Linked DNA regions of Homo sapiens: region 1 is linked to region 2. The links come from fine-mapping of genetic effects on gene expression. A gene starts in region 2. The other region holds a variant in brackets. All regions are shown on one strand. Distances are from middle to middle. Region 1 overlaps BHLHE40-AS1 (BHLHE40 antisense RNA 1). Region 2 holds the start of BHLHE40 (basic helix-loop-helix family member e40).

Region 1 (5,372 bases), 71 kb before region 2:
ACCTTGTTTCAAAAAAAAAAAAGGAAAAGAAAAAGAAAGAAAGAAAGAAAATGTCTAGGTGGGAACACAAGCTAAGGACCCAGTCTTCAAATTCCAGGACCTCTTGGATCATCCACATACACAACCTGACTCTCATTCACAGAAGCACTTTTCATGAAAACATTATATTACAATGATTTAAACACCCTTCTCCAAATTAGTTAACTTGCTTTACTTCAGATTAGCTAGTTTAAAGAGAACATAATTGATTAGTGAAAAAAACCAACTTGACTAATGAGTGAGCTCTGGGAATAGGTTTCTGGGTACCCAAGAAGCATTAACTCATACAAATAAGTCCAAACAATGACTCCAGCTGGGAAAAGAACAGAGTCAGAACAAGCAGTTGCCTAGGGCAATACATTACCAAGGCAGCGGACTCTGCAAGTGGTTTCTGTAGAACAAATGCAGGCTTTGAATTTAAATATTACCCACTTTGCTTGGGGTAGGTGAATCTGTAGATGAATTACTCACCCCAGAAGTTAAGCAGCCACTCTCCTGACCTCACTAGATGGATGACAGATGGATGTTTTAAAAGTGACTATTCAGAGTTCAGGGTGCAAATGAAGGCATTCACTATATGGCTGCATACACAGCACTGGCTATAAGCCAAGCTTGCTTTCCACCCCTTCTCTCTAGCCCAGCGTAGGCTGCTGACTATAAGCCAAACGCCAATCACCAGGTAGCAATGACTTGTCTTTGCACTGGCTGTGAGGAGGCTTAGTCTTTTTTAATCCTCTACTGCTTGCAAGTGAATTGGGCTATTGGGTATGTATGTATATGTATACACACACACACACACATATTCAAATATGCATATACATATATCTATCTAGCAAACCATCATATTTTCTTTTTTACTTATTTTTTGAGACAGGGTCTCACTCTGTCTCCCAGGCTGCAGTGCAGTGGGTGACTATAGCTCACTGCAGCCGTGGCCTCGTGGGCTCAAGCCATCCTCCCATTTCAGTCTCTTGAGTAGCTGGGACTACATGCACACGCTACCCTGCCCAGCTAATTTTAATTTTTTGTTTGTTCTAGAGACAAGGTCTCACTATGTTGTCCAGGCTGGTCTCAAACTCCTGGCCTCAAGTAATTCTCCCGCTTCAGCCTCCCAAATAGCTGGGATTACAGGCGTGATCCACTGTACCCAGCCTATATTTTCTTAGCCATATTTTTTTTCTTTCCTCAAACTCATTTCAGTTTATTTTATTCTTAAGCAGAGCCTATATTTGTATAAGCTGCTTCAATTCCCTCTATGGAAAGCCACAAACAGACAAATACATAAAGTGTAGAAAGAATGCTAATATGATAGACCGTGAGATCTCAGAGTCCTTTTTAGTGAAGCAGAGGTGTCACTTGTTTAAACTGTTAACCCTGGAGACTGTAAGTGTGAATCAATCCCTCAAGTATTCAAGTTGCAGGGCTCTCAAATTCAGGGTAAAAGAGAATTTATAAAAGCTCTAAAGAACAGGACAATTTATTGAATGGCTGTAATATGAATGCATGTTCACAAGGAATAATTCCATTTCCTTTGTTAAAATTCCCTTTTGTTCTTTGAGAATTCTTTTTTCACTAGCCAGAAAGCAAAATAGCACTGGAAACTGTTTTTGAAATGGACATCATTGGGCTAGATTGTTCGCAGCAATCTCTCTTGACATTGTGTATAATGTTTTATTACATCTGGAGCATCACTAAAAAAGAGGGAATAGAGTCCCACATTCACATATAGCTTCGTAAGGCAGCTATTGAATAGATCTAGCAAATCTTGTGGCTGTTTTGAATGTAATTATGAATCTCTGTCCTGGAGGTTGTCACTTCATTCTTAGGAAGGGGTAGTTCTACCTGTCACTAGGAGACTGGGCGGCCTAAGGAAACTCGTCAGTAGCTTGGGGCTCCCTTGTCTTTAAACTGAGGGGCCTGAAGTTAGATCACAGGGCTGTAGAATTCGCCTACTGCTTTCACAATCATTAGTTCTTTTGATCTTCACAGCAACCCTGAAGGGAGGCAGGGCATTTGTTATTTAATACACAAGGAAATGGAGGCTCAGAGATAAAACAATGTGTTTAAAGATCTTAGAGCAATTAAAATAGAACACCTGAGACAGAATCCAGTTCTTGGAGATCTGTTTTACTGCTGTTTTAGCACTGTGGTTCAGTTGGAATTTCCTACCTCACTTAATACGTAGAAGAAGAAAGTGAGAAAAACAGTGCCAGTGTTGGGGTGGACAGCAGGTGGAATACGCTATTGGTCTGACTCCTTATGGATTGACTTTTGATCTTGTAAAGAATGTACAGAGTCTAAATTTAGCAACAGCCAGCTAATGAACAGCTGGAGTCAGGTCACAAGTTTGGGGTGAGCATGGGTTGAACCAGCCCTGCCTTGCTTTTGGTGGGGCGCTTAGCAACAGTGCTACCCCAGGTGGTTCCATGCTGTAGCATATGCTCAACCTTTTAGTAAAGGCCACAGTCTTATTTAAAAACAAAACATCCAAAATTTCTATTATGAGCCTCCCAAATCCCCGTTAAATAAAAATGCAGTATTTTCCTCACTCTTCTTCCTATGCTGACATTTAGAAATACCATTTTCCTATTTCATTTTATATCTTCAGAGAGGAAACTATGTAATGCAGCAGAAAGAACCCCATTTGGAATTCAAGAAAGCCGGGTCCTCAGCCTCGCTTGACTTAGCTGTGTGATTTTCAACAAGTTACTTAACCTCTCAGAACCTATTTCTGTACAGGAAATCTAGGGGTTTTCCTATCTAAGCTTTGAGATCTTGTCTAACTCTCAAATTCTATGATTCATTTCCAACTTAGGTTTCTCTTATTTAATGTTTGCTATTTGTTTTGTTAGATATTAATTCATATTTGTGGGCCCAGTTTAACTTTCAAATAACAATATTTTTATTATTTGCATTCTATTACTCCTAGGTACGGGATCTCATCCCCGCTAGACCTTGCTTTGTTTTCCTGGGTAATCTTTCTATTATGTGTCATCCATCTCCTGACAAGCATTGCAGGTACCAGTGCGCTTATCACTTGCATCAGTTAGAATGAGAAAAGCCAATTCAAACCGCCTTAACGAGAAAAAAGATCTACTGACTCATGGAACTAAGAGTTAAGGAGTAGTGCAGGTTCAAGCAAAGTTGGATCAGAGTTCTTG[A/G]TCTATTTCTCTGTGATTTTATTGACTCTACTGATTTGTGTTTACGATGTTTATCCTGAGACAAACAGCAAGAGGATGCAATGGTTCAGGGCCTCCTATCCCTGCCCAAAAGGGACTATAAGAAGAATACTCTACTGTCTATTCTCTATTTTTGTAGCCAGGAAACTTTCTCTGGAATCCTCAGAAAACTCCCTTTTATCTCCTTGGCCTAAACAGAGTCACACACCATTCCTGAACCAGCCACTGTTGCCTAAGGAGTGCCATGCCAGGCTTGAGCCTGGGTATCTGAACCAATTGCTGGCAGGGAGTAGGGCTACCTTGACAGGTTTACACCAGTCAGTGCTACCCATGGAACTGAAGTCCAACCCCATAACTACAGAGTGGCTACATCATGGTGGAGGAGAGGATGTCAGAGAGGCAACCTTATTCCATTGTATCTTGCCCATCCAGCTCTAAGAACATGGGGGCAAAAATTGCATTTTCAGATCTTCTGCGTGCCAGGCACCCAGCTAATGTTTGTTACATTGAATAGAATGGAATGGAATGGAATTTTAGGTAGTGGTGAAGACAAAAACCAAAACAGAAAAATAACACGCAGTTCTCTGTACCTCTTCCTCTCAATTCTATTCTTGCCATGGCTGCTGTTCATGCTCCCTAACTTTCCCCACTATTTATATGTTACCCCTCTTATTTTTAGCCATAAGTTTTACTTAGTCTGAAGATAACCAAATATTTCCTGAATAATAAGTCTCTGAATATGCATATTCTCTAAATATGAATATAAGCCTATTTGCAAATCTAGCACTTACATTTAGAATGTTGTTGGCAGGACTCTGAAAATCAACTTTTTTTTTTAATGGAAAAATATACTACAGCAGAAGGATTTGTTTTCCACAAAGCAGAACCAACTTTTTTGATTTCAATGATTTTTTGATACTTCCGTATATATTTATATGCTCATTAAATAAATAAATATTAAGTCAGACCTTCTTGATTAGAGAATCGTCTGTCACTAAAAATTGGACTTAGGACTTACAAGTCTCTCTCATTAAAGAGAAGGGGTTGTAAGAGGGCTGGGATGCCTGGATTTATTCAGCCCCTCTTTCTCCCATTCTAGCTCCCAACGTGGTCCCATTCTCTGAGAAAGTACACAAGGCCCCGGGGCCAGGCAGTAGGTGATATTCATAAGCAACAAGAAATAGGAAGCCCTCTATATGGGTTTAGTAGCGCCCTCTTCCAAAACAAGACCACAGCAACCGGCTGATCGGGGCCACCCCTCAGGAAATGCTGGACCCAGGGCCACCCAACTCAACAACACTTTCAATCCTTTAGTAGCTTTTACTGAGCACACCATCTGCGTAAACTTCAGTGTTCTATGATATAGTCCCTGCCCTTGAGAGAGGTAGACAAGGAAACAGGCAATTACAATCCAGCAGTGAAGTCCCTGGAAGAGGTAAACCCAGAGTGCTACCAAGGCAGAGGTAGCACTGTGAGAGGGCTGCTCCATGGCCTAACACCAGAGGGGTCAGGATTCACTTGAAACACAATGCCCTTCCATGGAATGTTCTTCCATTTGTTTGTGTCCTTTTTTATTTCGCTGAGCAGTGGTTTGTAGTTCTCCTTGAAGAGGTCCTTCATATCCCTTATAAGTTGGATTCTTAGGTATTTTATTCTCTTTGAAGCAATTGTGAATGGGAGTTCACTCATGATTTGGCTCTCTGTTTGTCTGTTATTGGTGTATAAGAATGCTTATGACTTTTGCACATTGATTTTGTATCCTGAGACTTTGCTGAATGATGTCCCCTGCAGCTGTGCAATGTGGCAGCCCTGACCCCCGCCCCATCTTAGCATGGTCAAAGAAGCCTTCCCAGAAGAAGTGATATCCAAGCTGAGGTTTGAAGTAAGGAAGGGGAGAGCATCCAGACACTCTATACCAGGTTTGGAAGGGGGAGTGCACATATACAGTGTAAACATGGCCCAGCACTTAAAGAGGAATACAGACTGCACATCCTCAGGTGAGTGCATGGTAAAGGAGCACTCCTTCTATTGCAGGGTGAGATGAGGGATGTGATTATGTTCAGATACATATGGGCCTTAGATCTTTTTGGATACTAGCTGATACTTTATCAACAGTTGTCTTCCTGAGTTCTTGCATATCTGCTAATATTGGAG
Region 2 (5,372 bases):
ACACTGCCAGTTTGGTCAACTTGTGAATGCCAGTTCTCTAGGTCGTCAAGGGCACTGCCAGTTAAGACTGATCCCCTAACTGCACCCGAGGCTACTACTCTTCGCCCAGTCTCGGCAGTGACCCCATTTTTTTTTCAATCCTTCCCACAGCCAGGTCACTCAGCAGTGGGGTGACTGACCCGAAGCGCAGTGGGAAGGGCTTACAGTCATCTCTCAACTCCCCGAACTTGCAGGGCAGGGGAGCGCAGAGGTCAGTGAAATCCCCAGCCAGGCCTTATTTTAGTCATGAGTTTCCACTGGCTCCCTCCTCTGACTGTATCAGCGCTGCTCACACCGCGGGATTGGAGTTTCAGCTGTTTTCCCTGCTCCCGGCTGAGTGAGAAGGTCACAGAGCCCGGACCTTTCCGGGGGAGGTGGGTGGGGCCCTCCGGCAGCCTAAGTGAGATTGCAGAGATCTGGGGCCGCTGGAGGAGGTCCTTCCGCCCCGGGCTTGGGGCTTTGGGTTAGCTTCTCCCCCGCTTCTCTACCTAGGCATCTCGGTTACAATGAAATTAAAAACAAAACACAAAGCAACACAAGTTCTCATTGTTTTTCCCCTCTGTCAGCCAGTGGCCTCGATACAATTTTCCCAGGGCTGCCTTTCCTTTATTGCTCAATTTAACCTCTTCCTAGAGGTTCTGCAAGTTCAAGGGCAGGATCCGTGTCGGATTCATCAACTAGTGCAGCGCCTAGTGCAGAGCAGGGGGCTCAAGAAATACGTGTCGACCGCATGATTGCTAAGATTTCCCTGTAACAGGCGGTTTTTTTTTCTTGTCTCTCTCATCCCTCCTGCCCTGGGTGCAGACCGCGAACAGCGCCGCCGAACTTCCCAACAGGCAGGGAGAGGGCCGATCCGGGCTGGCACGCCACGTCCCCGGGGTCTCAGTCCCTGGGTCAACGCAGAGAGGCTCGCGGTCCGCGGTGCTACGACCTGAGCCCGGCCACGTGAAGCGTCACGCCCTGCGCTGCTGCAGGGCAGGCGCCGCCGCCGCGGTTGTGTAACGCTGCAGCCGGAGGGGAGGCGACCGGGGCGCCTCTGCTCCGGAGGGGGCAGAGGAGGGAGGGAGCGCCGGGCACAGCGCCCGGTATCTTTCTGCGCTTGACTGGCCGGGAGGAAGGGGGTGACACTGGGGCACCCAGGGGGCTGCGCAACCGGGTGCCCGCCCGCCCGCAGGTTGTGCCCAGGAGCGGAGCTCCTGGGAGCGAGGGGCCCTCGGCTCACACCCTCCACGGTCAGGTGCGCGCGGCGTGCTCGGCGGCAGCCTCAGCTGCCCCTGCGCTTGGCCGTCGGCCCGCTTCCCATGGGGTGACATCCGCCCCGCCCCTCGGTCCCTCCCCAAGGCGGGCAATTCCTGGACGCGAGGGTGAGCAGTGGGGGCAGGGAAGCCAGGACGGAAAGAAACCCCAGCCTCTGGGGAAGGCTGGGGGGCCGGGCGACTCCCTCCGCAGCGCGCCGGTTCCTCCAAGCGGGCCGGGCGGGGGAGGAGGAAGAGGGCTGGGCTGGAGCTAGCAAGGGGATATTCCTCTCCCGGCTTGAGTCAGACGCGGGCGGATCCGTCCTCCCCCGTTCCCTCCCAGGAGACGGGAACTTACTTCATTTCCCTGGGGCAGGTTCGCCCACGTTACCAACTTCTCCCCCTCCCCCAGCACCCCCGTCCCTTCCAGCTTCCGCGCCCCCCACCCAACTGGGCAGGACCCAGGTCGTGCTGCCACCCCCTCTTCGGGGAAAGGCGGCCGCAGCCGCAGACACCTGGGGGCCGGGGCTGGGGGTGGGGGCTCCCTAGCAGCCGCCGGAGCGTTGTCCAACACGTGAGACTCATGTGATGAAGCCGGGGGAGGGCGGGCAGGTCGCTCCTTCCCTCCCCGGCAGTGGCCAGACGTGCCTGGAGTCACAGGGTAGAACACGTAGCTCCAACCCACCCACTCGCTCCCATTTAACCCAGCCCGCAGCCTCTCCATTACTCCTCGGCTTGCCCCCCCACCCCCCCACTCCGCCCTAACCGCCCCCCCCTCACCCGCTCCCTCCCGCCTCCCCGCCCGCCCCACTTCTCATTCACTTGGCTCGCACGGCGCAGACAGACCGCGCAGGGAGCACACACCGCCAGTCTGTGCGCTGAGTCGGAGCCAGAGGCCGCGGGGACACCGGGCCATGCACGCCCCCAACTGAAGCTGCATCTCAAAGCCGAAGATTCCAGCAGCCCAGGGGATTTCAAAGAGCTCAGACTCAGAGGAACATCTGCGGAGAGACCCCCGAAGCCCTCTCCAGGGCAGTCCTCATCCAGACGCTCCGCTAGTGCAGACAGGAGCGCGCAGTGGCCCCGGCTCGCCGCGCCATGGAGCGGATCCCCAGCGCGCAACCACCCCCCGCCTGCCTGCCCAAAGCACCGGGACTGGAGCACGGAGACCTACCAGGGTAAGTTGGCACTCCTTGGCCCTTCAAGCCTCAACTGCAGCCCCATGTTATGCGCCACTCTCAACTTGGAGCAGCTCCGGGCGCACCGGGAGGTTCTTGCCCGGCAGAACGCCTGCAGCCGTGCGCAAGCAGTCACGACCCTTCCTGGTCTCTCTTCCTGCAGGATGTACCCTGCCCACATGTACCAAGTGTACAAGTCAAGACGGGGAATAAAGCGGAGCGAGGACAGCAAGGTAAGCAAGTGCACCCCTAGGGACCCTGCGCTCAGCCCCTCGCGCGCGCTGAGTTTCCAAGAAAAGTTTTCTCGCTTTGAGGTTGGCGAGGGGATGCAGGGTGTGGGCTCGGTGCCTCTTCTGAGTGACTTGGAAAAGAAAGGGCAGACGATGGTTCTGGGTGCTACTCTGCTACTCTGCTCCTCTGCCGGACTGTTGCTGCGGGGCTGGGAGGATAGGCTTCTCATCTCCTTCCCCAAGCGCCCACCGCCTCCCCGTGCGTCTTGCAGGAGACCTACAAATTGCCGCACCGGCTCATCGAGAAAAAGAGACGTGACCGGATTAACGAGTGCATCGCCCAGCTGAAGGATCTCCTACCCGAACATCTCAAACTTACAGTAAGTGAGAAGCTGGCCCCTTTCCAACCCAGTCCTTTGCCCAGAGGGCGGGCGGGTCACTCGCCGCCTGCAGGTTCCGCGGGGAACTGCAGACCAGACTGGCGGATCAGAGCTGGCGGGTGGCTCTGCGGTGGGGTCCTCCTCCACAGTCCTGGCGTTTTCTGGCTGACTCATGCAAATGAGGCGAGAACCACTTGGACCTCTCCAAGTTGGCTCCAACACCAACTGGCCTTCCTTTTCAGGAGTTTAACTTCTGGTGATTTTCAGGATTCCCTAGTTTTTCTCACTTAAAGGAACACGCCAAGAAACACACACATTTTATTTACCCCTTCCCCTCTACCACTCCCCCCACCTTTTTTGTTGTTGTTGTCAAATAAGGGGACTTGCTTTGGTGTGTGATTTTTACGGCCTGTCCTTTCTTGACAGTAGCCCTCGGCTACTTCGCAGCCTTTGGTTGGGGAAATGGAAAAAAAAAAAATAGTATTTCGGGAGGAACAAAAAAGCCTGGATGAGCTGGAAGTTCTGAAAGGGTGTAAGGAAAGAAGTAGGGAAAGCCTCTTGGCTGCCAGACGTAATAGAGGTCCCTCTCTGAGTTGACACCACTGCAGGAAAATGTTATCTCTGGATTCCCCTGAGTTAAGGTCGGCAGAGGCTGCTGGAGAAATTTATCTGTCAAAGGATTTTCCTGAGGTAGTTGCAGCTTCCAAAATGCCTCCAAAGACAGGTGGCACCCGTTTTTTTAAATTATTTAATTATATATATATATTATATATATATACACACACACACACACACACACACACACACACATATATGAGTGTATCTGTCTATCTTTTTAAAAGCATGACCTACAGACTTAAAACAGCCAACCAGGAAACACTATTCCACTTTTTTTTTTCTTTTCTCATTTCTCATTGCTAATAAATGTCCCAAAGGTGGGACTTCTCTGACCTCACCGCTGACTAAGGCTCTTTTCCTTCCAGACTTTGGGTCACTTGGAAAAAGCAGTGGTTCTTGAACTTACCTTGAAGCATGTGAAAGCACTAACAAACCTAATTGATCAGCAGCAGCAGAAAATCATTGCCCTGCAGAGTGGTTTACAAGCTGGTGAGTGCTGATTCTGGCTATGCTCTCTTTAAGAGTTTGAGTGCAAATAGAGAGCCCGTGGGCTCAACATCTGATGTAATAAACATTACTGCAACAAATTGCTTATGCACGTTCATTGGGGGAGATGCAGTTTTATCTTTCCTAAAAGGTCAGACTTTTCATTTGAAATGCATTGTGCCACCTGGCATGAATACGTATTAGTGAAATGATAAGATATTCCTGTGGCATTTTAGCTTGAGAGTCTCTGGGTTCTGGGAGATTTCCCTACTCCCTTTTAAAATGCCAAGGCACCTATAATTTGCATTGTGGGTGTTTTACAGTTGGTCTTCTTAGCCCTCTTTCATTGGAGAAGAAATCATGGGTATGCCCCAGCGTTTTCCTGTTTCTTTGCTTCCTTGTCACTTGGTGTGTGGTGTGATCCTGGCAGGATACAGCAGGAGTTTTTCCTGCATTTCATGTGGTTCCCTGAATAGCCACTAGGTATCTTGGTGAATTGCACAATCTAGCGAAACCACTGAAGTTTCATCATTCGTTTCTACTGACTTCCAGATAATCGGAGTCAACCTTCTAACCTTCTAGTCTCACTTCTTCCAAATAATACTGTACAGACTGGGGAGAATTATTCTACCCACTCCCTCATTTCATGCTTGTCTGCCTTCCTCTCGAAGGCTCGTATGATGAAAATTGCAAAAACCCAGCTAGTGCTTCTGCCTGTTTCCTCATTCAAAATAGGAAGATGGTCATACCTAATGTCTTGAGGATCATGGATAGAATATGTGGAGAAGACATAGAAATAGCCTAATTAAAGGTCACAGCATGACTGCAACTTTTACAAATCATTGAAAATAAGTTTACTTTAGGTGATTGTTGTTTCTTCATTCTTTTCCTCATTTTATAACTATCCAGCCTCTGCCCATTTTGCCACGGTGCAATGTTGTATGCATTGACTCTTAGGTTTATAAATACATCAGAATGTTCTTTGCTGCCTCGCTTACATGGAAAACTCACAAACCACCTATACAATCCAAAAGAGGGGAAACAGCTCATCTCATATTAATTATGGTCCATTTCCATGATAGGATATTATGCAACCATTAAAAATCATATTTTATCTGAGTGTTAGTATATGGATTATTTTAATTATTTATACTTTTCAGTGTAATTCTTCTCTGAGCATACTACTTTTGGAGTTAGGAACACAAA

Evidence for each region. PIP is the estimated chance that this variant, and not a neighbour inherited with it, causes the effect. A credible set is the group of variants that fine-mapping cannot tell apart.
Region 1: its variant is the best candidate, but not a certain one, in a credible set for the expression of BHLHE40 in whole blood (TOPMed, PIP 0.60).

Annotation. Positions count from the first base shown.
Region 1 is chr3:4,905,866-4,911,237 of GRCh38, forward strand. All of the region lies in intron 1 of BHLHE40-AS1 (BHLHE40 antisense RNA 1), which reads right to left. Among named protein-coding and RNA genes, the nearest start is that of BHLHE40, 71 kb to the right of the region's middle. RefSeq lists enhancers at 287-992, 630-769. The variant A/G (reference allele first, on the strand shown) is at 3,201.
Region 2 is chr3:4,977,347-4,982,718 of GRCh38, forward strand. It overlaps BHLHE40 (basic helix-loop-helix family member e40), which reads left to right and starts at 2,091. Exons shown (of 5, transcript NM_003670.3): 1 at 2,091-2,452; 2 at 2,616-2,685; 3 at 2,955-3,062; 4 at 4,046-4,169. The coding sequence starts at 2,373. It overlaps BHLHE40-AS1 (BHLHE40 antisense RNA 1), which reads right to left and starts at 2,615. Exons shown (of 3, transcript NR_125916.1): 1 at 2,449-2,615. RefSeq lists enhancers at 313-502, 623-672, 803-922, 2,223-2,372, 2,480-3,074 and silencers at 1,033-1,802, 2,013-2,072.